Linked DNA regions of Homo sapiens. The protein of the gene in region 2 interacts with the protein of the main gene of each other region in a pairwise test. Each region holds a gene or a part of one and is shown on either strand. Other genes may lie near its edges. The genes, in order: PTN, ASPH, SGTB and GSC2.

Evidence for each region.
Region 1: the proteins of ASPH (region 2) and PTN interact in binary tests that used the Homo sapiens proteins (3 or more experiments, as listed by UniProt).
Region 3: the proteins of ASPH (region 2) and SGTB interact in binary tests that used the Homo sapiens proteins (3 or more experiments, as listed by UniProt).
Region 4: the proteins of ASPH (region 2) and GSC2 interact in binary tests that used the Homo sapiens proteins (3 or more experiments, as listed by UniProt).

Annotation. Positions count from the first base shown.
Region 1 is NC_000007.14:137,249,721-137,256,755, forward strand, and holds part of PTN (pleiotrophin isoform 1 precursor), read right to left. Parts: intron 5,255-7,035; 5' UTR 5,254-5,254; coding exon 5,139-5,253; intron 3,918-5,138; coding exon 3,744-3,917; intron 1,672-3,743; coding exon 1,510-1,671; intron 1-1,509.
Region 2 is NC_000008.11:61,501,559-61,508,593, reverse strand, and holds part of ASPH (aspartyl/asparaginyl beta-hydroxylase), read left to right. Parts: intron 1-5,084; coding exon 5,085-5,235; 3' UTR 5,236-7,035.
Region 3 is NC_000005.10:65,665,428-65,670,144, forward strand, and holds the end of SGTB (small glutamine-rich tetratricopeptide repeat-containing protein beta), read right to left. Parts: 3' UTR 501-4,717; downstream 1-500. UniProt on the Homo sapiens protein: Co-chaperone that binds directly to HSC70 and HSP70 and regulates their ATPase activity.
Region 4 is NC_000022.11:19,147,287-19,154,380, forward strand, and holds the start of GSC2 (homeobox protein goosecoid-2), read right to left. Parts: upstream 3,007-7,094; 5' UTR 2,998-3,006; coding exon 2,739-2,997; intron 2,631-2,738; coding exon 2,377-2,630; intron 1,810-2,376; coding exon 1,705-1,809; 3' UTR 1-1,704. UniProt on the Homo sapiens protein: May have a role in development. May regulate its own transcription. May bind the bicoid consensus sequence TAATCC.

The DNA.
Region 1 (7,035 bases), on a different chromosome or scaffold from region 2:
ACATTTGGGAAGTCTGCATAAGTACTCACTGCAGTCACTCCAGCCCTGCTTCATGCCTTCCAAAAACCATATGACAACAGGCAGAGATTTCCATGATCTGGAAAGGGCAGCCTGAACCCTAGACTCACCACCTGCAGGTCCAGCCTGTACCTGGCCATCCTGAAGTTGGAGATAACTATTTCTATGGACAACTCCAGCAGTGGCCAAAAAGCCAGGCCTGTGAAAAATAAAGTCCTTTCTGGCCACCAGCAGGAAACCAGCCAATCTCCATCACCTTCTGCAGATTTTTTTTTTCTACTTTTATTTATTATGAGCATTTCTTACATGGTCATTTTTCTGAATCTCTCCTTACAATTTCTCTGGCAGTATGAATTTTCAGGACCACCTTAGAGTTAAAATATATGAGTAGAGGCCAAGAAGGTATTTGAATTTAGAGTTCATTGAGTCCCATTGTATTAGTTGGCTATAGCTCCTATAACAAAGTACCACAGAGTTGGTGGCTTAAACAACAGAAATTTATTTATTTATTGTCTTGCAGTTCTGGAAGCTACAAGCCTAAGATCAAGGCATCTGTAGGGCTGATTTCTTCTGAAGGTTCTCCCTATGGCTTGTAGATGGCATTCTTCTCCCTCTGTCTTCACACAGTCTTCTCTCTATGTATTTCTGTGTCCTAATCTCCCTTCTTATAAACACACCAGCTGCACTGGATTAGGGCCTACCCTTGTGACTGCATTTTATCTCAATTACCTCTTTAAAGACCCTGTCTCCAATACAGTGACATTGTGAGGGGGTTAAAACTTCAGCATATGAATTTGGGAAAACACAATTCAGACAATAACATCCATGATGAAAGAGTTTATTTCCCTCAGTTGGGATCCTTGTATGTATGAATTCATGGCCATAATGATTGTTTTTACCTTCTCCAGCAAGAGAGCAGAGCCTGACTTTCTGGGAGATACAGATCTCTGTCATTTAAAAATTCTGTGATGAATGTAGTTGGTAACCAAATTGAACTCAAAAAATATAAAGGCTCTGAAAACAAATGCAGAACCCATTAAGTTATGCAGTGAATAAAGGGAAAATGTAAAATAATTTTCCTGATTTTGTGAAAACTATATTTCAGATAATCTGGGAGAAGTTTGATTTAAAATTGTCTCCGTCATAAACATTCTGAGTTTGTTTTTCTTGTCAGGATACAGTTCCAATTAAGAGTGTGGAATATATGGTCATCATACAACTGTCTTTGCTGGTTTCTTTTGCTATGTTATTTATTTGGGTTAGGAGACTGTACCAATCCCCTCATCTATGCAGAGGACTTCAATTTGCACTCACAGGCTGCCTGCTTCAAAGTATTTTTAAAGTATTTTTGTGACTCTCAGTGTAGGGGAGTTTTTCAGTCACTTTCTTAAGGTAATTCACCTAATATTTCCTTCTGGAAAATGTGGGTTTTCCAGATCTTACCTGAGTCCATCAATCCATTAAAATTGTGGTATAATGGCAAGGACTTACCTTGAGGTTTGGGCTTGGTCAGTTTGCCACAGGGCTTGGAGATGGTGACAGTCTTCTGGCATTCGGCATTGTGCAGGGCTCGCTTCAGACTTCCAGTTCTGGTCTTCAGGGCTGTGTTCAGGTCACATTCTCCCCAGGCCTGGAACTGGTATTTGCACTCCGCTAAAGGCAGGGTAGAACCAAACAGAAATCCTTGAAAGATCCTATCGTACTTCCAGGATAATAAAGGCACACTTTTGTTTGTAACTTTTTTATTGAAATAATTATAGATCCATATGCAGCTATAAGAAATAATACAGAGTGTATGCGTGTGTATTGATTTCTGTTCAATTCTATCACATGTGTAGATGCATACGATCACCATCAATATACACCATTAATACACACTAATATACACTATTAATATACAGTCCCAATACAACAGTGGGTCATTCTTTATAGTCATGGCCTAGCCACCTTCCTCCTTCCCCACCTCCTTAATCCCCGGCAACTCCTTATCTGTTCTCTAGCTCTATCATTTTTCTAGCTTAAAAATGTTGCATAAATGGAATTCTACAATATGTAAACTTCTGAGATTGGCTTTTTTATTTAGCATAATTTCCTGAAGATCCATCCAAGTCATGTGCATCAATAGTCTGTTTCTTCCTATTGCTGAGTAGTATTCCATGGTCCCAATGTACCCCAGTTTGTTTAACCATTCATCAGCTGAAGGACATCCGAGTTGTTACCAGCCTTGGGTTACTACAAATAGAACTGCTATATAAATTCATGTATAGGTTTTTGTGGAAACATCAGTTTTCATTTCTCTGAGATAAATTACCAAGAAACTGCTGTGTTACATGGTAAATGCATGTTTCATTTCGTAAAAAACTGCAATACTCTTTTTCCACTGTGGCTGTACCACCTTACAATTTCCACTGGCAACATATGAGGGATCTGGTTTCTTGGCACCCTCACTAGCATTTCGTCTTGTCACTATTTTTTATTCTAGCCACTTTGATAGATGTAGAGTGATATCTCATTATGGTTTCAATTTCTAGTTCCCTAATAAGGAAAAGATGCTGAATATATTTTCAGGAGTTCATTTGTTGCCTATATATCCTCTTTGGTAAAATGTCTGTTAATGTTTTTTCCCCACTTTCTTATTGAACTGTTAGGTTTTGTTTGTTTTGTTTTTTGTTGTTGTTGTTTTGTTGTTTACTGTTGAGTTTGAGAGTTATTTAATATTCTCAATGTAAGTCTTTAAGATATACCTTTTAAACTTTTTGTAAGTGGGTTTTTAAGGTGCCCATATACAATTTAAGACCAAATGTACCTGTTCTCCATCACACTTTTATAGAACTTGTCTATATCCATTCAAATAAAAAATACCCCAAAGATTACAGAGGGAGAAAAAGACATACATGTATACATCCATTATCCTTCCTCACTTGTCTATGGGCCACAATGCATTTCCATAGAACACAGATAGGACATTTCAGGCATCATGTCCCACTATGGCTAAGAAAGACAAAAAGTCTGGATTGTGGAAGAGGTTATTTGAGGGTTCAATACTGGATATAAAGTTGAAAGTGTTGAGAGATCCTGTCTCAGATAGATAGATCAGGCCAGCATAAGACTGACTCCAGTCAGTGGGAGAAAGATTTATGAAACGTGGCTGTGAGCAGCCCTGCTGAACTCAGTAAGTGAATCTGTGAAACTGTGTGGAGGTTGGGGAGGGATCAAATGGGAGAGAAGGTCTGAAAGTGACAGGGAGAAACATGGAGAAGCAGGAGAATAAATAAGAAAAGGGGAAAGGAAAAATCAAAGGAACTTAGAAATAGAAGAAAGGAGAGAGAAGACAGATCAATTAACATTATTCAGAGGAATCAAGGATATATTTTATGTCCCTTTGGAAAGGCAGTGGTTCCCAACCAGGGATGATTTTGACCAACAGGGTACATTTGGCCATAGATATTTGGAGACATTTTTAGTTTTCACATCTGGAGCGGGTGAGGAATGCTACCGGAAACTAGCGAGTAGAAGCCAGCGATGCTCCTAAATACCCTAAAATGCACAAGACAGCCTCCACAACAAATAATTGCCTGGCCTGAAATGGGACCAGTCTGGTCACTTTGTGTCTGGTAAGATAAAGTTATTTAAAATAAAAAGTACTTATCCTTAAAAAGACATTTGGTGGAAAAATTTGAGAATTATCTCAGAGTAGGAGATTAACTCAGTAGCATGAGGCTTACCGCCAAATTGCTTCTTCCAGTTGCAGGGGATCTTACATCTCTGGGTCTTCATGGTTTGCTTGCACTCAGCTCCAGTCCGAGTGCCCTCCCGTGTGCCCAGCCCACAGTCTCCACTGGTGGGCACACACACACTCCACTGCCATTCTCCACAGTCAGACTTCTTCACTTTTTTTTCTGAATGAAAGGAGGAAAACCTAATCAACATACAGAAAACTCCTTAACTTCCAGATATAACCAAGTTCATTCCTGAGCACCTTAATTGCAGGATCTGTGTTTTTTAATCTGTATCCTTATTGTCTAATGAATAGTAGAAACATGATGAATATTAACCAAATTATTGAACCAATGAATGATCAAGAGAAGAGAGAAAGAAAACTGAGAAAAGAGCTAAAACTAATATTAATTGAACTCCCTCTTACTATGTGCCAGAGACTGTGCTAAGTGATTTAGTGGCATCTCCTTTTAGAAGCAAACATTTCTATAAAAGAAGAGATGGTCAAAAATATAGTTCTCCTAAAAATGAAGAAAATATTCTATTAGAAATAACAGTTGTCAGCTGGGCAAAGTGGCTCATGCCTGTAATCCCAGCACTTTGGGAGGTCGAAGCAGGCAGATCACAAGGTCAAAAGATCGAGACCATCCTGGCTAACATGGTGAAACCCCAACTCTACTAAAAATACAAAAATTAGCTGGGCGTGGTGGTGCATGCCTGCAGCCCCAGCTACTCGGGAAGCTGAGGCAGGAGAATCACTTGAACCGGGAGACAGAGGATACAGTGAGTTGAGATCGCACCACTGCACTCCAACCTGGTGACAGAGCGAGACTCCAACTCAAAAAAAAAAAAAAAGAAATAACAGTTGTCAAATGAGCCATTTCAGTGTAAGTTGTTGTTCCTTTCTCTGCCTTGTAGAAGGAATGACATCATACAAATATGGTGCATCACAGATTTAAACAGACTGTCAGTTCCACAGCCTACTTATGACTTTGGGAGTGGCATAGAGAAGGTGCTTTATCTTCTCTGTGCTTGTTTCCTCCTCTGTAAATCTGAAATTAAGGAGAAAAACAAGTTGCAGTGCATTTTTTTTTTTTTGAGGTAGAGAGGTAAATAATAAAGCACCTGATTACCGGTCAATGTTCTATACATAGTAGCTGCTAATTTGATCATTATATTAATGATCATCATCGTCATGCAATCCAAGACTTACAATGGGAGAAAAATAAGACAGGATATTTCTTAGGTTCCTCTAAGTAATTATTTTTGAAAAGGGAAGATTGAAGGAATAGAGGAATAGGAAGGGAGAGAGGCAGAGTAGAAGAGAGGAAGGAAAAGCAGGTAATTAGACTAGATGGACATTAATCAATGAAGCATCTTGCCTTCAGAACCCTACTGCTTACCTGGTTTCTCTTTCTTCCCTGCTTCAGCAGTATCCACAGCTGCCAGTATGAAAATGAATGCCAAGAAGGCAGCTGCAAATTTTCGACGCTGCTGCTGGTACTGTTGAGCCTGCATTCTAGGAATAAACAGAGAAAGAGAAGAAGGTGGCATTAACCTAAGTCAGAAAGGAAGATTCATTGAACCCTTGATGAAAAGGCTCCACTTTCCATTTCTGGAATGTTAGATTTCAGGAAGATTCATATCAATTATCTTGGGTAGAATTTTATCTATTCTTACCAACAGCCATTGAAATAAGTGCTCTTCTGCAATCAATCACGTATTCACTGACAAAACGCAACAGTTCTTCACTTAAGACTTCACAACCATTTGCTAAGTATGACTCAGAAATTATGGAAGCAAAAGAACTTTGAAGGCATGCATTTGAACACAGTCCTACTGTCTTGCTGATAGCATCACTTGGTAATATCGACAACTACAGCCATCTTCAAAATTCCTGACAATATTAGAAACAACCACAGCAATGATACTGCTGTACACAAGACCAATTTGAGTAGACATGATGAATGAATTACCTATACAAGTATATGTTTACTGTTTCTATTTAGACGCATACACAACAACCAACATCTCTGATCTTTTTAAAATCATTGTCATAATCATCACTATCATCTTATTATTCCATTATTTATTGATCTAACAAAGAGTGAATCCCAGAAGTAGAGCTAGCACACCTGTGATACATATCAAACACAATGATAAATTCGCATGTGCTAAAAATCCTCTAATCTTAGGATATGGTGAAGTCTTTACACTCACTCATAATAGGAAATGCTCACATTTGATGTGAATCAAAAATCCCAAGATATCATTAGAAAGACTCTCCTAGAACTTGAAGCCACCTGTGACAGCCTAGTGTCAATATGGTCACTTGGCCAAAACACCCTTGAGAAAGTTTCAGTCCAAGCTCCAGGACGACCCACTTCCCAATGGCTACACCATATCATGGCTGCAGCAACTTGCCTGGCAGTTATTGAGCTCCATCTGCTGTGTTAGTGGTGTGTTATACTTCACATAAAAATGGTTGTAATGTCCTATGATCATAGGCTGATAATTTTTTTTCCAGAGGTAGTACTAGATTAGTTTAGGTGTTTCAACATTCTCTTTAGTGTGAACAATAAAACGTTTCATGTATATAAGGGGTTGAGATTATTCTTTTCTCTAATTTATTTTCCTCATTGAAAAATATCTGAGATGATATCCTTGCCCGTGAATTTTTCTCCTTTTCTGTGGCATTGTATATGCTGTCTCTTATTAGTGTTTTTTTAAATTTATTTATTTTTAATTTTACTTTAAGTTCCAAGATACATGTGCAGAATGTGCAGGTTTGTTACACAGGTATACATGTGCCATGATGGTTTGCTGCACTTATTGACTGGTCCTCTAAGTTCCCTCCCCTTACCCCACACCCCTCAACAGGTCCTGGTGTGTGATGTTCCCCTCCCTGTGTCCATGTCTTCTCAATGTTCAACTCCCAGTTATGAGTGAGAACATGCGGTGTTTGGTTTCCTGTTCCTGTGTTAGTTTGCTGTGGATGATGGCCTCCAGCTTCACTCATGTCCCTGCAAAGGACATGATCTCATTCCTTGTTATGGTTGCCTAGTATTCCATTGTATATATGTACCAAATTTTCTTTATCCAGTCTATCATTGATAAGCTTTTGGGTTGGTTCAATGGCTTTGCTATGTAATAGTGCTGCAATAAACCTATGTGTGCCTGTGTCTTTATATTAAAATAATTCATATTCCTTTGGGTATATACTCAGTAATGGGATGGCTGGATCAAATGGTATTTCTGGTTCTAGATCCTCAAGGAATCACCACACCGTTTTCCACAATG
Region 2 (7,035 bases):
AGCTAAGATATTATCTATAAAATTTGTAGGTAGAAGACTCTATAAGCACCTAGTATCATTACTTAGCCTTATTAATATCAATGGTAATTCTGTGACCAAATTATAGTTATTAAATATGCACTGCCACCATTTTATCATTATCATTATTTATAATTATAATAATTTGAGAAGTTGACAGATTATGGAATACTGTTTTATCTTAGGACGAGATATTCTTATATCTTTTGACAACCCAGAGAGAGACTTTCTTCTCTTAGTGGTAAGAAATTCTAACAGAAGGCCAGGAACAGTGGCTCACACCTGTAATCCCAACTCTTTGAGAGGCCAAAGCAGGAGAATTGTTTGAGCCCAGGAGTTGGAGAGCAGCCTGGGCAACATGGGGAAACCCCATCTCTACAAAAAAATCCAAAAATTAGCTGGATGTGGTGGCACATACCTGTAGTCCTAGGTACTCGGGAGACTGAGGTGGGAGGATCACCTGAGCCTGGGAGGCGGAGGCTGCATTGAGCTGTGATGGTGCCACCACACTCCAGCCTGGGTGACAGAGCAAATCCTGTCTTGAAAAAAATAAAGGGTTAGGTGGGAGGAGAGAAAGAGAGAGAGGAAGGGAAGGAGGAAGTTCCAACAGTGAGCCAAGCTTCCAGGGATGGAGAGCAGTGCCCACCCCCAATGCTGCTTCTCTGGGTCCTTAGACAAGGCTGTAACAGTACTTCCAGGCAGACCTCTGTCACAGGCCGCTCTGAAGATTGTTTCTCCAAAGGGCTGATTGTATGTCGTAATTCGAGTGTAACTTAATCTTATTTGATGGAGCTTTGTTCACAAAGCAAGTGGCCTGAAAACTAGTTCTTTGCATTCTAATGAGAGTCTTTGGTTTTCAGTCAGAAGCGATTTGACATCTTTATGCTCCTCTCCCTTTGTTGTGGAAAAAAAACATCCTTTCCCAAGCATGTGATACATCTCGAATTTAACCTGGAGTCACTTAAGTCTGGACATGGCTTGTAGGATGTTTTATTGTTCTTCATTTTCCCCTTTTAGGTGAATCGTGACTACAGTTTTAGTCATTCTATCTCTAATAACTGATTGAAAGACACCATTTTTTTAAGAATTCAGAAGAAATCTACATTAAAAAATCTACATTATGTTATTGACTATCTTTGCTATTTTCTGGGGAAATGTATGAAAGAAAGTGGAAGGGCAAATAAGTCCGACAGCACTCACTTTCCCCATAGAGTTTTATGACCCTGAAACAGGCCAATTAACAACCCTTTGGTATACCTCCCCAAATTTCTTATTTATACAATTGGTTAATTAATGGTTTACACTGATCTGTATTGTACTTAATGTATCTGGAAAGCTGCAAGCCTGTGGTTCTTAAGTTCTACTTTTATATGCACTGATGTTCCATGAGTGACCAGCGTGTTCCGGTGCTAATAACTTTTCCCAGTTCTCAGGAATTTAATTTAATGAATGGAATGCTTAAGGCCTTTTTCCCAGAAAACAATTCTAGATCTTTGGCTTTGTTATACGTATCATAATCTAGTGAAAAATGTCATTTTGTGTGGGCTAGAATTTTCTATTCAGTTATTTTAATTACTTCTAGTGTTTTAAGTAGTTTCCAGGTTCTCTGCCACCCAAAAAACTTTGAAAATCACTTGTCATTGCTGTACAAACTACATTTCACAGATGCTCTGAAGATGTTTTTATATCTCATCTCCCTTGGAAGTTTTTAGTTGTCTCAAAGGAAGGCAGACAACATCATAAAGAGTGATGCATATGTCATTTTTGATAACATACCACTTCCCAACATTTCACCTCTGTCTTTTATCTTTTCCCTATTTTTCTTTATATTTTCATTTTTCTGTCATTAATTGAATATCTACTATTGCCAATCATATGCTAATCCTCACATCAATTATGCCGATGAAGACACAAAGAATCAATTATGCTAAGTAGCTCACCTTAGGTCCCATAAGTAATAAATGCCAAGGTCAAGAGGATTCCCCTCAAAGACCATAAATTTCCATCTTCCTGTATTGCTTCTTTCTTTCTCCTCTACCACATGCTCTCCTTTGCCTTTCCCTTTTTTCTCTATTTAATTGTAGTAAAATACACATAACAAAATTTACCATATTATCCATTTTTAGGTGTGCAGTTTAGTGACATTAAGTACATCCATATTGTATAACCATCAACATGATCTATCCTCAAAACTCTTTCTAACTTGCAAAACTGAAACTATACCCATTAAATAACTCCCATTCCCGTCCTCCCACCGGCCACTGGCAACCACTCTTCTCCTTTCTCTCTCTGTGAATTTAACTACTAGTCTAGGACCTCAGATGTGTAGAATCAACTAGTAATTATCTTTTTGTGTCTGGCTTATTTTACTTGACATAATGTCCTCTGAGTTCATACATGTTGTAGCATGTGTCAAAATTTCCTTCCTTTTTAAGGCTGAATTAATATTCCATTGTATGTGTATACCACATTTTGTTTGTCTGTTCATTCACTGATAGATACGTGGGTGGCTCTCACCTTCTAGCTGTTGTGAATAGTGCTGCTGTGAACATAGGTGCACTGCCTTTCATTTTGAGTACACTTCCTCCCTCATCTTCTACATAAATTATAGGCTCGTTTGTGGTACCCACTGACATTGCTTAATCCCGGTGACAACACTGAGACCTAGAAAATGCCTGCCTAACTGTGGAAGCTGTGGACTGTTTCACTGATTTTTCTTGTCAGCGTATTTCCCCGCCTTGGTTTTGCCTTTCTTCTCAAGTTAGATTTTGCATGGTAATGAATGCATATTCTGTCATTTTCTCCTAAGTCCATAGATTTCTGTCTTTTGCTACCCTTGATGGAACTCCAATGGAACTCTAAAAACCTTCAGAGGAGTTGTAGAAGAGCCAATCAACATGTGTGTGTTGAATGCAAGAGATGAGGCAAGGTGTATTAGTCCGTTTTCATGCAGCTGATAAAGACATACCTGAGACTGAGAAGAAAAAGAAGTTTAATTGCACTTACAGTTCCACATGGCTGGGGAGGACTCAGAATCATGGTGGGAGGCAAAAGGCACTTCTTTTTTTTTTTTTTTTTTTTTGAGATGGAGTCTTGCTCTGTCACTCAGTCTGGAGCACAGTGGCATGATCTCAGCTCACTGCAACCTCTGCCTCCCAGGTTCAAGCAATTTCCTGCCTCAGCCTCCTGAGTAGCTGGGATTACAGGCATGCGCTACCACGCCTGGCTAATTTTTGTATTTTTAGTGGAGATGGGGGTTTCACCATGTTGGCCAGGCTGGCCTCGAACCCCTGACCTTGTGATCCACTGTCCTCAGCCTCCCAAAGTGCTGAGATTACAGGCGTGAGCCACCGCATCCAGCTGAAAGGCACTTCTTACCTGGTGGCGGCAAGAGAAAATAAGGAAGATGCAAAAGCGGGAACCCCTGATGAAACCATCAGATCTCATGATACTTATTCACTATGATGAGGACAGTATGGGGGAAGCTGCCCCCATGATTCAAATTATCTCTCATCGGGTCCTTCCCACAGCATGTGGGAATTATGGGAGTACAATTCAAGATGAGATTTGGGTGGGGACACATCCAAACCATATCACGAAGTGTATGAGATAGCACACTGGGTGGAGGTGGGAGGGTGGGTAGTAGAAGTAGAGGTTCAGTTCCCAACTTCAGTGAACTTTCAACTTGCAAATACTCAGTACTTTATCTGTTAGTTTACATAACTTGGAAATTTTATTATCAGACTTATTCAGTATGTCAGTTATTTTCCACTGGAATGATTTTTGCTCCTGCTCCCACCCTGGACATTTGGCAATGACTAGAGATGTTTCTGGTTGTCACAACTATGGCAAAAACTACAATTACTTTTGCACCAACCTCATGGTATAGGGAATGCTACTGCCATACAGTGGGTGGAGGTCAGGGGTGCCGCTAAATATCTCATAGTGCATGGAACAGCCCCTACAACAGAGAATGATCCAGCCTAGATGTCAGTAGTACCACGGTTGTGAAGCCCTGCAATATATGTAGTATTGCTCAGTTTATATTAGTTAATCACCTGATATGGAACATAAAAATTCACCACTAGTTTTCGCACAGAAAACCTCTTTATGATAATATAGTAACTTGAAATCAAGCTAGCATTTCCCATGCTATAATAGTCATTATTTGCTAATCCAGGATGTAAAATTTTGAAGGCTTAAGTGGCATTTTAGTATCTAAGGAAAATTTTCTAGCAAAAATTTTATTTTAAAAACATAACTTGGTATTTAATATATTGGCAGTTAATATCTATTTTTAAAATAAGGAACCATCAGTGTCCCTCATAAACTCTCTTTGGATTTGAAAAGCATTGTGTTACTGCCTCCTGTATGTTTCTCTCTTAATAGACTAACACTATATTTAGATCGCAGTCCCTATACAGATATCTTATGAGGTAAAGTTGGAAGCTCTATAGGGTGTTTTGCAGCATTGATTTAAAATATCCCATGGATAACCCACTTGCATAGAAGATGATACTAAAAATATAAACAAAATTTATTCCCAATCTGCCCATTTTCTTCAGCTGGAATACTAGCTAGGAAACTCCTAATTTAGTTTTCTGCTTTATGGTACTGTGTTTAAGCAGATTCCTTTCTTCCATAAAATGAAACTTGAACAAGTGGAGTGAGCTGAAAAGACAATTGATTGGAAGTGTCTTGAGAGGCATAGAGATGCCTGAGACCCAGTCACTGCCCATATGTCTAAACCAGAATAATTGCAAGACATGTAATAATATACAGAATAATTGCAAGGCATGTAATGAGACCAATATGTCTTCATCACAAATCCTCTGTTGTTTGTACATCTCCAGCACTGAGCAATGAAAACTGATGTTCATAGCAAGATTTCTGAAATTCTTTCCTAATCATCAAGGGAAGAATAAACTTGGGCTTGATGTTCTAGTTATTTGGTTATGTCCCAAAGGTTGTTACCAAAGGTAGTTCTCGCACATGGACAGGAATCGATCCTCAGACATCTGAACCACACAAAACTATATTCAGGAATCCTTGTCTTTCTGCTGCAGGACCTGGGAGGAAGGCAAGGTGCTCATCTTTGATGACTCCTTTGAGCACGAGGTATGGCAGGATGCCTCATCTTTCCGGCTGATATTCATCGTGGATGTGTGGCATCCGGAACTGACACCACAGCAGAGACGCAGCCTTCCAGCAATTTAGCATGAATTCATGCAAGCTTGGGAAACTCTGGAGAGAGGCTGCCTTTCTGGTTCCATCTCCTTGGGTGTGAGGATAGAATTTCGAACACCAAGAGTCAATTCCCTTGACTTGCAGCCCGAGTAATTCAAAGCCTCCTCCTAGGGTCAGAAGACACTAAAGGGAATATTTGCCTCGCTGCAATTCATTTAGGAAACACCCTGCTGTGTGTCATCTCATGACAGCACTGGTCTTCTGCCAGTATTTAAGGTGAACATTTGATAGCTTCTACCTTACCAGCCAAAGATATTTTTTCCACATAGAATAGGTCTAATTCAATGTATAATGAGAACATATGTAGAAACTGTGAATGGATTGCTTTAGTTTGTAATTTTTCTATGCAGTTATATTTTTCTAGTGTAGCTAGACTATTTTGTCATCATGTACCACTACATTTTTGTTTATTTTAATGACAAGCTGTATAAATGCTTTACTTCTAGCTATTTAATGGTAGCATTACTGGGGAACTCAGACTTCCCTCTTTTAATTCTTCTTAGTAAAAGATACTCATGAAAAAAGCAGTTTTATTTTCCTAACAAAAAAGAAAGAGCTCATTATGTCAGTGTCTATGAACTGTACCCATCCCAACTCTCAAATCGTTTGGTTTTTTTTATCTTGATTGAGATCCTCTTCTCACTATGCTAGTGGTGGAGATATTGACAAAATCCTATTTCTTTCAAAGAGGAACTTTTCACACCGAAAAAAGAGCATGGAATTATTTTATATTGTTATAAAAATCCCAGATGCAAATTTTTTTAATGCCAATTATTAGAGCTTCTGGGGAAAAAGTATAGTTCACGGAAATAAAACTATGTTCTTTCAGGGTTGGGTGGATAGGTGGCTGCTAGGGTGTCTGGCTCCTGGCGGCTTTGCCATCCATGAGGCAAGGGCTGGGAACACAGTGTCTTTGCCTATGGTAGATCCATGTGAATGTCAGGAAGCCAGCTCTTCAGTCTTGGAGATGATTTCTGCTACAATTCTGTAGAAAGATTAAGGATGGCAGAGTAAAAGGTTACCAAGAATGCCAGGATGTTTTTCTTGGGCGTAGGAGGTCCAGATTACTTTCCTTTTTGATGAAAGAGTTTGGAAGACTGTCCCATCTCTCTGGCTTGAGAAATCTCTGCCATTTTAAACATCACTGTGAAATAGCAATTATTATCATCTGTATTTAGTTTTAACATTACCCACAACATAGAAATAATAGGTAAAAATCGTCTTGCCTACTCATTCCAAAGATGATCAAGTCATTAATCTAGCAAAGTATTCATGTATCAGATTTTGTATATTTTGAATCAAAGCTAACTAGGAATGTTAGATATAAGAATGTAATGATATTCATGCACTGAATTCTAAGCCAATATGAACAAAAATGCTGCATGAATGGCACATATAGGTCACCAAAGTTCATTCACAGGTAGAAAAAACTTGTGCTTTCTTTTCCATCTAAAAACAAAAGGAGACTTTCTTTATCTCATTTAAAGAACAGCTCTTTGAAATTGAAATTGACCCTTTTTGCTTGACCTTAAGGAGATTAGCTTCCAGTAGATGAGTTTGCAAAATACTTTTCCTGTTCTTTTGTTTTGCTGGTATTGAAAACATCCCACTAAATCAGATGAAGAGGCATGGGAGGAAAAATATCCAAATTAATTACTAAAATCGAGAAGAGAAGGCAAACTCTTGAAAAGTAAAAAGGTGTTTGTGACCTTCAGTATTTATTGAACAGAGGAAATAACTGACAAGGGCAATACAATTCAATGTTCATGT
Region 3 (4,717 bases), on a different chromosome or scaffold from region 2:
AATTACTGTAATGGTTTGTGTCTGTATTTGTATATTATACCTACAAACATACATATCTTTCAGCTACTGAACACATCAGAATTGGTTTTACTTTTTAGGTTGTTGATTTTTTTTAATTAACTATTAACTAAGAATAATACTTATTTTCTAATTATAAGCCAAAAACCCCTGGGTTTTTTTCTCATTGATTAAGCCACTTATTTTTATAAGGTATATTTAAATAATTCCCATCTTCTGATATGATTTTAAACTCTAAATCATGTGTTACTGTTACAAAACTTTCTCTCTCCATGTAATCACACTTAGTTATGAGCAAAGCAGTGAGAAAGTTGAGGTGATAAACAACTTTGCAGCATTAATGTAACAAAAAGTTTCAGTATTTGTCAGGAAAACAAAAGCTTAGGCTGTTAAATAAAAGCTATTCTATTTTGGTAAGTTGAAATTCAAGAATGTATATATAATTTCTTAAATGTAAGAGTGCATTAAATCAAATACAAAAATTGGTTTTTCAATGCATCATTATTTATTGCCATAACAAATTGTTTGGTCCAAAATGAAAGCTATATTCAGAAGGTTTGCACCTCAAAATTGAGTAATAATTAATGAAATGTCTGTACAAAATAAAGTGCAAGCAGTGTAAAATTGAAGTCTGTCTTTGTTTCAAAATGATTAAGATTAAATGATGAAATAATATTTTATAGCCACTGCATTGGATACTTGGATTGTTTTTCAAGCATCTTCTTATGACTAAATCTTCTGTTTCATTCTGTTTTAAATCTAAAAAGTAAAATGATGGTCACTTGGAATCTGCTCTATATTTTAATTATAGTCTCTTCTGTTTATAAACAATAACTTACACATATTTTTCATAGTTTTAAGTAAAGATTAAATAATGCCATCTTAGAAAGGATCTGTTTAACCTATATTATAAAAGTTAGATACACAATTTGGTACATTAAATGAAAATGTCATTTGCATATATAGAACCTGTTCTGTTTTACACAGTATCATAATAGCTACAGCTACTACAAGAAATATGGTTAATGGAAGTCAAACATTTAGTACGATGCTTAAAGAGTTACTTTAATAATGCCCTCTTATTTTTCTAGTTAGATAGCAACTATATTTCCCAGACAAGCAAGAAAATATATGGGGCATTTTTTATAAATTTAAAAGTAGCTAGCACAATCCAACCACGCAACTTTTTTTGAAATAGCTTGCAATGCTATGATTCCAAAGTGATCAAGGTACTTGAAGAGCAAAAATGGCTTGAATAGAATGGAAATGTAGGCAAGTGGACAGATAGCATCTAGATTGAATTTGTTACAGGTGGTATATTAGCAAAGAAATAGAAAAATGAAATGGAAGAAATATACCAATTCCCATTATTTCATGTAAAAAGAATGGCTAATTTAACTACAGATGTTAGCACATGAAGACATTGTTTTAAAGTTTTTTTTCTTATAGTATCTTTGTCTGGGTAATACTGGTCAAATAAAATGAGTTGGGAAGTATTTCCTCCTCTTCTGTTTCCTGGAAGAGATTGTTTAGAATTGATATTATTTCTCCCTTAAGTGTTTGGTAAAATTCATCACGGAAGTTATCTGGGCCTGTAGTTTTCTTTACTGGAAGGTTTTTAACTTAACCACAAACTCAATTTCCTTAATAAATATGGTTCTGTTTAGGTTATCTGTTTCTACAGTGAGCTTTCTAGTTTGTATCCTATAGGGAATCTGTTTCATCTAAGTTGTTAAATATACAATCCTTGAGTTGGTCATGGTGTTTTCTAGTTAGCCTTTTAATAACTATAGTGTCTGTAGTGTATTCCCTTTCATTTCTGACACTGAATTTGTATCTTCTGTTTTTCTAGGCAGTCAGCTAGAAGCTTATCTTATTGCTCTAAAAGCATTTTTAATGCACTCAAGATAGTTATGCTAGAAACTTTAACTTCTTATTCAACACTGAATATGAGTGACTAATTTTTAATTAAGGATCTATTTTGCTTTTTATATCACAGTAATGACTTCTATGTGTTAGTAGTAGTACTTCGTTCTGTGTAATACTGGAATACTAGGAGTTCATTCTAACTTAATGAAAATCAAAGTTGGCTTAGATGGAATATGAATTTAACTTCTGAGGGCCGAAGACTTAAATTGTGCTCTTTTTAAATTCTGCAGAACTATATATCTTCATACAGATCTTCGTTGTAGCTTTGTTTGGCCCAGGTGCTTAGGTGTTTGCAGGTCTGAGAAACCTCTAACCTAGTGTTCCTCTAAATTAGAGTCCTTGGATCTGTATCAAAACCACCTAGTGTACTGTTTAAAAATGGCCATTCCTAGGCCTTATTACAGGACCTACTGTATCAGAATTGAACACGTGGCCCTGAATCTGCATCTTTAATGAATTATCCAGGTGATTCTTACAATGAAGTTATAGAACTACTGTTCTAATGTCACAAAGGAGAAAGAGAAAAGTTGGATTTTAAACTTCAAGATACAAAATAATTAGTCTCTTAGTCTCTTTTTCTTTTTTTTTTTTTTTTTGAAATGGAGTCTTGCTCTGTCACCCAGGCTGGAGTGCAGTGGCGCAATCTTGGCTCACTGCAACCTCTGCCTCTCAGGTTCGAGCAATTCTCATGCTTCAGCCTCCCAAGTAGCTGGGACTACGGGTGCCCGCCACCAAGCCAGGCTAATTTTTGTATTTTCAGTAGAGGTGGGTTTCACCATGTTGGCCAGGCTGGTCTCAAACTCCTGACCTCAGGTGATCCCCCCTGCCTTGGCCTCCCAAAGTGCTGGGATTACAGGCATGAGCCACAGCGCCCGGCCAATTAGTCTTTTGATAAGGGTTCTATAAGGCCTAATCATCTGCATTATTACTCATTTAATTGTATATTACTTCCTGGCCAGGCACAGTGGCTCACACCTCTAATCCCAGCACTTTGAGGGGCCAAGATGGGCAGATCACTTGAGGTCAGGAGTTCGAGACCAGCCTGGCCGATACGGTGGAACTCTCTCCATTAAAAACAAAAATTAGCGGCCAGGCACGGTGGCTCACGCCTGTAATCCCAGCATTTGGGAGGCCAAGGCAGGCGGATCACGAGGTCAAGAGATTGAGACAATCCTGGCAAACATGGTGAAACCCCGTCTCTACTAAAAATACAAAAATTAGCTGGGCATGGTGACACGTGCCTGTAATCCCAGCTACTCAGGAGGCTGAGGCAGGAGAATCACTTGAACCCGGGAGGCAGAGGTTGCAGTGAGCCGCGATTGCGCCACTGCACTCCAGCCTGGCGACAGAGAGAGACTCCATCTCAAGAAAAAAAAAAAAAAAATTAGCTGGGCGTGGTGGTGGGCGCCCGTAATCCCAGCTACTTGGGAGCTTAAGGCTCGAGAATCACTTGAATCCAGGAGGTGGAGGTTGCAGTGAGCTGACATTGCAACACCACTCTAGCCTGGCAAAAGAGTAAGACTCCATCTCAAAAAAACCCCACAAAATTTATATTACTTCCTTTTTCAGTTTTCCCTCGTAAAACTTGTGAAGTCATTACATGTCAGCACCAATTTCATTATTAATAAACAAAAAATATACTCTAGTTGGAATTAAACTCTCATCATCAATGTAGTTAGACCCATGCAATTAATACCTAATGCCCCTTTTCTCCACTAACTAATATGGCATCTAATTTATAATAAAATATTTTAAGTCTCCTGTTATATTTAAATTGCATCAAATTTAAATTATGTTAATTATAAGACTGGCATGCCAAGCCAAATTATCACAGAAGATTACATGAACAAGCAATGTTAGTGATAGATGCTTTTTGTTATCCATCAAATAATTACTAAGTTTTCTTTTTAAAAAAAATCAGTGTTTATGGGCACACAATTAAATACCATTTAGAAAATCCTTAACTTAGGACCAGGTCACTGGCTTAGTTAAAGTATATTTATATTTGATAGTTTCCAAGGTAAGGTTACCATTGGGGAAATTGTGATAATTAAGTCAAACAGTTGTACCACTGACCTAACCAGTACATTAAGGATTTCTAAATGTATCTTATTGTGTATTTAGCATAAGTGGCCATGCTAATATTATCAATACCAAACTGCAGACAAGATTAGTTAAGAACTATGCAGAAAACCTGAGCATCCTACCTTTACTTTCTATACATTCGCATTACCAATTTTTTCTTTTCAAAACATCCCTTGCATCAAGTGCTACTTTCTAACAGCTCTTAAGATTCTCTGTTCACCAGAACAAGCAACATTAAAGATAACATTGGTTCCCATGTTATATATTCATTACTAATAGCACTTATCAAAGCTAAACCTAGATAATATTCCTTCTTTCCTGACATACTGCTCAGTGGCAAGTACACTTCTTCTCAACCAGCATAGGAAACCTTTCCTTTGGGTCATTTCCCTTCTCAAAAAACTTTGCTTAAGGGAAATTGGAGCTAAAGAGCTTACCAACAAATAGCCCTACTAGAGTTCAATAAATATGCTTTGCTATTAAGTCTAATATACAAATATGATAGAAGTTTGAAAATGGAACCTTATCCCAGTGCTATATTGGCACGTAACATGGCTAGTGATCATTTCAAAAGGAGTCATGTTATGTTTTGAGTTTGTTTGTGATAAACCTATTGTCTAAACAGATTTATTCTTTAAGAATATACACAAGAGGTTTTCCTCCATTATTTTCACACATCAGATAT
Region 4 (7,094 bases), on a different chromosome or scaffold from region 2:
AAGATAAACCGGGAAGAGGGTGAAGATGAGAAGCGAGCGCCTGGGTGTGAGCGTGAAGGATGCCTATGTTAATAGCCTGCTGTGGGGGGTCAGCCTGCCAAGGAGCAGCTAGAGCTCAAGAAGCAAATTCAGGAGAGCAACACAGCCACTGAGCCCTGGAAGGTGGCGCTCCACAAGCTCTGATCGGGGCTCCCAAAACAATGACAGATGGCCATTCAACCAAGGAACTCAAGGGGCCTGGAGCCTGTGAGATGCGAGTGTCCCCAGCTGCAAGGGAGCTGACTGGGACACGGGCATGTCCACAGGTAGTCTGTTCAGTCCCCAAGGGCAAGACCAGGGTTCAGGGAGAAGGGCTTTGTGTGCATGCTAGGGGTGGAGGCGGGGATGCTAGGGACACCCAGCAGTGTCAGGGCAGTTCTGACTGGGGACACCATGCTTGCTTGGTGTTATCCAAGCTGGCCAGCCTTGGGGTGTCTGGGGAGCTGCAGCCCTGGCTTCTGCAGTCCTGCTTTTAGAGATGGACTTCATCTCTTGCAGGTAGAATGGCCCCATTCCCTGCAGGGCCTGTAAGGAGACAGAACGAGGTGCTCAAGCCAGCTGGGGGTGGGGATGTGAGATGCTTTGGACCCACTGTAGGGCCTACTTGGGGAATCTAAGGCTTCTTTCCACTGTGCCTTTTGCCATGGGCCAGGATAAAGAAGGGGAGGGCAGGCATCTTCCCAGGCAGCAGGGGCGGGGTCTCCCCAGTCCAACCTCCTCTTGCCCTACCCTAGGATGGCACAGATTGCTGTGAGGGAGTCCGAGCCCACAGCATGAAAACCCCAGGAGGAAGCAGGGGACCCTCACCCATGGGCAGGTTCACAGTAGCCTAGAGGCCAGGGCTGGACCCCAGGGGTCCAAGGCCACCATCCGTGGAGCAGTCCCCTCTGCTGGGGAGCACCCTGGTGCAGAGACTGAGGATCGCTGAGCTGTGCTCCTCTCAAAGACAGCTGTACCCTAAATACCCCCTCGCTGGGAAGGAAGAAGAAGGGACAGCTCCTTGTTGGGTGTGGGAGTGGAGCCAAGGTGGACTTGAGACTCTGGGCGGCTTCTGTGGTATTTGAAGTTGCTAGTTTCTCAGTATCAGCGCGAGGCTCGAAGGTGAAGGGACTGTGGAGGGGCTCCTGGAATCGCTCCTGCGACCTTCTTATTCTACAGGTCCAGATACCAAGACCCAGCCCAGGGCCTGGGAAGCCTGCAACGCCAGGACTGCACAGACACGAACCCCATCCCCTCTCCCGCTGGGGGAGGACGAGCCAGGTCAAGTTAGGTCAATGTCCACATTGAGAAGAGGGTGGCCAGCATGTCCCAGGGTGCGGAGAGACGCTCCACTGCGTAGGATTCTGGGTCCCGTGTTGATACGGGGTGGTTCCCCTCCTGCGGTGGAGTTAGTGTCTCTCGGGGGGTAGGGAGCTGAGGAAACTGCTCTATGCCCCAGCCCACCCCCAAGGGACTCGCCACTCCCACTGCCGTGGAACACCAAGCACCGGGGGCCCGTCCCCAGCGCCACGGCAGCACGAGCTGCAGGAGGCAAGGGCTGTGGAGACGGGTGGAGGCGGCCGGTGTACTCTCCCAGCTCCTTTTCGGGTAGACCTGTCTTCTCTCAGCGCCAACTCCAAAGATCCCAAAAAGGGTGGCCGAGCCCAGGGGCAGCTCCTAGAGTCATCAGCAGCTCCCCTTCGGGGACTTCTTGACGCCGGGCAGGAGCCTCGCGGAAGCCGACGCGCGCTTCTGGTGTCGCCATTTGGCCCGGCGGTTCTTGAACCAGACCTGGGGATGGGGGGAATGCTCAGCCCTAGCCCCAGGTCCTGCGTCCCACCGGCTCCCGAGGGTCCCACAGGGACCGAGAGGGGAGCTTCGCAACAGGGATGTGGGCGGACGGCGCTGTAGAGCCGACACCCGGGCCGCGGCTGCGCGCCACCTGCCCTTATTCGCTGCGGACAGACTCGGTGGGTCTGGACGCGAGATGGGAACCCCCTTAGTACCCGCCCCAGCCTCCAGCTGGCGGCGACCAGGACGCCCCTTCTTGGGTTGCGGGCTCTTCTGAATTTCCCAAATTCTGGACGTGAACGCGGGCCTCTTTCGTCACCAGAGGAAAGTGTAAAACAAAAGAAAAGAAAAGTAGCCCTCCGGTTCCTTTCCCGCGGCACCTCCCTGCTCTCACCCGCTCCTCATACCCCCGGACGCCCAGCGCCGTCCAGGGACCTCCTCCCTCCGGCGCGCCAGGGCGGGGCTTGGGCCGAGGCCGTCTTTGCAAAGGGCGCCCGCCCGCCAGGACCCCAGTCCAGTGTAGCCGCGGCCCGCGCGCTCCGGGGAAAGGCTGGGCGGGGCACTCACCTCCACGCGCTCCTCGCGAAGGCGGATGCGGCCGGCCAGGCGCTCGCGCGTACTCACGTCAGGATACTGGTTCTGCACGAAAAGCGCCTCGAGCGCCTGCAGCTGCTCTTCGCTGAAGATGGTGCGGTGGCGCCTCGTGCGCCGCTGCGAACCCGGGCCGACCGCGCCCGGGAGCGCCCCGGAACCTCCGGCTGGCGCACCCAGAGACAAGGGCACCGCCGGTCCCAGCCTCAGCGGCCACGCCAGACGAGCGCCTGCGGAGCGAGGGCGCGGTGAGGCGCGGGGCTGGGGCCAAGCTCGGCACCCACTGCGCCGCGCCCCGGGCTCCGCCGGGCCCCGCGCCCCGCTCCGCGCCCACTCACCCAGCCCGGCGGCCGCCTCTGGGGGCCCGCAGGGCGCCGCGCGGGGGCCGCAGCAGCAGCAGCAGGCGCAGGGCGCAGCCTCGGGCGCCCCGGGCTCCTCTGGCTTCGCGGGGCTCTGGCGACCGGCGGGCTGCGGTGGGCAGGCGGCCCGGGCCGGGAGGCTCCGCTCGGGCAGGCTGGAGAGGATGTGCTCGATGGAGAAGGGGCAGGGCCGCCCGGCACCCCGGCGGCTCGCCGCGCCCCCAGCCGCTGCCGCCATGCCCGGCCCGGCCGGGGCGCCGCCGCCGCGGGAATATATACGTCGGGGAGGGAGCGCGCAGTAATCCCCGGGCCGGGCGTCCAGTCCACGCGGGTTAATCCCGCAGCGCCGGCCGCGAACGCGCTAATCCTCGACTGCGGCGGCCCTGCCTCCGCGCGCGGGGGCCGGGGGCGCTGCAGAGAGGGCCCCCTGTGCCCCCCACCCCGCCCCGCGTCCTCCTGCCCCACCCGCGCCCGCCGCTCAAGCTGGCAGGGCGACCTGCGGGGAAGGGGCGGAGGGCCGCCTCGCCGCCGCCCGCGGGGCCTGGCAGCCGCTCGGAGGGCGCCCCGACCCTGGCAGCTCCCCAGAGCGCGGCGGTGCCTCCCGGCCCAGCCTCTGGTGGCTCCCCCTCGTTCGGCTGGGCCTAATTCCTCGTCCCCTCTGGGGCCCTACTGCGGCGGCTCAGCACGCCTGCAGAAGCTCGGCCTAGCCGCCCACCCGAAACTCCTGGACCGCAGCCTCCATGGGGCCCAGCACCACCGGCAACCGCACGATCCCGCCGCGCTCGGGTCCCGAACCTGCCCGCCACCTCGGAGCCAGGGTCTCATGGCCCTGGAGGGCGTGAGAGCGCGGCAGGAAGCCTGGGCTGCCGGGTGCCCCCAGTTCTCCGTCTCCTCACCTGTGTCAAGGAGACCTCCCCGCCCCTTCCGAGGCCCCTCCTCGGTGCTTCAGAGCCGCCTGTCCTCCAGCTTTCCCACTGGTCCCAGAATCCCCGCGAAAACATCCAACACTGCACCTCGCCCTTCCCCGCACTGTCACTGCCCCCCAGAAGCTGTGGGCTCCCCCTCCTCGCTCTCCGCCCAGGCCAGTCCTCTGGCCACACCGTCCTCGGTCCCTTCTGCCACAGCGCAGGTGACCCGCACTTGGCTACATTGTTTCACCCTCAGTGAAGCGGCTCCTGGCAGCGGGACCGTCACTTCAGCTTAAGACCCTTTCCTCTTGACCTTTGAAAATACAGTATGGGACTCATAGCACAGAGAAACAGACGGCCTGGCTCATACTCCGTTGTCAATTTCTGGCCGTGTGACCTCCATAGGCGTCTTCAGCCTCTGGGCTTGGCTTTCCCAATCTGTAAAGTGTAGTGACTAGGTGTGAGACGGTTAGAACCTGGCCGCCTCCCCAGGGCAATGCGTATTCCTGCGCTCCTCCCGCCGCCAGCCCCTCTGCAAGACTCTGCCATCCCCACTCTGCTATCAGTGAAAGTGCTGTGGACATCACTGTGACCGAACCTGCTGATTTAATTTCTGTCACAAGAGCTCCCACATAGGTTTCCCAGGGGTAGTCTGGAGGCTCAGTGATGAGCTGCCACCTCCATGAGTGGCTCTGTCAACCCCTCCTCCACCCACCTCTTGGTGGTAGAATGGCTGCCACAGCCCCACACTTTTCATCTCCTCCCATGGCCCTTTGGATGGCCATGGATCCCTCCTCCCTCAGCAGACCTCCCTCACAGAACTGCATCTGGACCATCCTCCAAAATCAGAGTGCTGCTATGATGGGGGAGGCAGGGTCATTGGTCAGGAGAGCCAGCCCAACATTTGCTGAGCCCTCTTCCTCCTAGCCCTGGCCATTCCTTCATCCTTTCCCATTCTCACCCTCAATACCTATTCCAGCCTTGGAGCTCCAGACACCATCTTTGTGACAGTGACTCACAAGTGCACCTCCAGCCTGGCCTCTCTCTCTGCTCCACGCTCTTGTTTCTGGAGCCTGCTCCACATCTCCATCTCCACTACCAATAAAGTTCTCCCAGTCACCATGCCAGAAAGGAACTCAAGGTCTTCTCAAAATCCCTTTCTTACCCTATGTTCTCCACTTTTACAAATGGGCCACTGCCCACCTGTCCATCTCTAGTGCTCATTCTCTTCTACCTATTTGCCTCTGCGTGTGCCCTGCCTCTTTACCAGTCCACCTTGGTAAATGGCCCACTGTGGCACTTTTTCAAAAAGTTTATTTTCTATTTTGCATTATTTTTTGAGACAGGGTCTTGCTCTGTCACCCAGGCTGGAGTGCAGTGGTGTGATCATGGCTCACTGCAGCCTTGGCATCCTGAGCTCAAGTGATCCTCCTGCCTCAGCCTCCCAAGTAGCTGGGACTACAGGTGCACCACCATGCTCAGCTAATGTTTCTGTTTTGGGGGGGTTTTGCCACGTTGCCTAGGCTGGTCTCAAACTGCCGAGCTCAAGCAATCCGCCTGCCTTAGCCTCCCAAAGTGTTGGGATTACAGGCATGAGCCACCGTGCCTGCCTGGCCTGCCCCCCTCCCTTTTTTTTTTTTTTTTTTTTTTTTGAGACGGAGTCTCGCTCTGTCGTCCAGGCTGGAGTGCAGTGGCATGATCTCAGCTCACTGCAAGCTCCACCTCCCGGGTTCACGCCATTCTCCTGCCTCAGCCTCCCGAGTAGCTGGGACTACAGGCGCCTGCCACCATGCCCAGCTATTTTTTTTTTTTGTATTTTTATTAGAGACGGGGTTTCACCATGTTAGCCAGGATGGTCTCGATCTCCTGACCTTGTGATCTGCCCGCCTCGGCCTCCCAAAGTGCTGGGATTACACGCCCGGCCTTTTTTGTTTGTTTTTTTACTTTTGAGACAGGGTCTCGCTCTTTCACCCAGGCTGGAGTGCAGTGGGTGACCATAGCTCACTGCAGCCTCTGAACACCTGGGCTTAAGAGGTTCTCCCACCTCGGCCTCCCAAGTAGTTGGGAGCACAGGCACACGCCACCATGCCTGGCTAATTTAAAAAAAATTATAGATAGGGTCTCACTATGTTGCCCAGGCTGGTCTAGAACTTCTGACCTCAAGCAATCCACCTGCCTCAGCCTCCCAAAGCTCTGAGGTTACAGGTGTGAGCCACCGTGCCTGGCCACTCTGGCGCCTCTGAAACATGCTGGCAGGTTCTCTGATGCTGCTCCCTTTGGGAGTTTAATTGGGTTTCTTCCTGAAACATGGGCTGGCCTTCACGACTTGCTTGTAATCCATAGAATGCAGCAGAACTGACATCGTGTGGTTTCTGAGGCCAAGTCACACACAGAGTCACACAGATCAGATCAGCAACCCAACTCCTTCTCTCTCTCTCACACATCTTGGGATGCTTGATCTTTACACCCAGCCACCATGCTGTGAGGGGCACAGGCAGCCTCGGGAGAGGATAGGCGTGTTCCTGCCAGCAGCACCAGCTGAAGGACCCATCCACCCCCTGCACGGGTCACCTACAAGTGAGTGAGGAAGCCTTCCAGATGGCTCTGGCCCCGGCCACCATTGGACTGCAACCACAGGAGACACCAAAACTGAGAATCCCCTCCCTGAGCCCAGTCAAGCCCCATGACTATGAAATATAATAAAATAGATGATGCTGGGTGTTTTTACTGCACCAAGTTTGATGTGGTTTGTTATATAACTATAGATAAGCAGAACGGGATCTGGTACTGGAAGTGGGGTGGGTGCTGCTGATACAAAACCTAAATCATGTGACATTGGCTTTGGGATGGGGCAGTGTCCAGGAGCTGGGAGGACCTTGCAGAGGCTGACAGTGGGGACTTAGAGGAAAGTGAAGAAATTGTTACTGGAAGATGGAGGAAAGAAGACCATTGTTATGCAGTGGCAGGAAGTTTAGCAACATTGTCACCTGTAGCCAAATAGGAAATAGAAGCTAGATAGTATTCCCAAGAATAAAATGATCTAAGGACATACCCAGAGAGAAAGTTCAAGGTGCTACTTGGCTTCTTCTAGCTACCAATAATAAAAAGAAAGAAGATATGATTCAAAAAGCAAGATTTAGGGCCGGGCATGGAGGCTTACTCCTGTTATCCCAATGCTTTGGGAAGCTGAGGTGGGAGAATCACTTGAGGCCAGGAGTTCAAGACCAGCCTGGGCAACATAGCAAGACCCTCATCTCTATAAAGAAAAGTTTTTTCTTTAAGATGGAGTCTTGCTCTGTTGCCCAGGCTGGAGTGCAGTGGTGTAATCTCTGCTCACTGCAACCTCCGCCTCCTGGGTTCAAGCAATTTTCGTGCCTCAGCCTCCCGAGTAGCTGGGATTACAGGTGTGTGCCACCATGCCCAACTA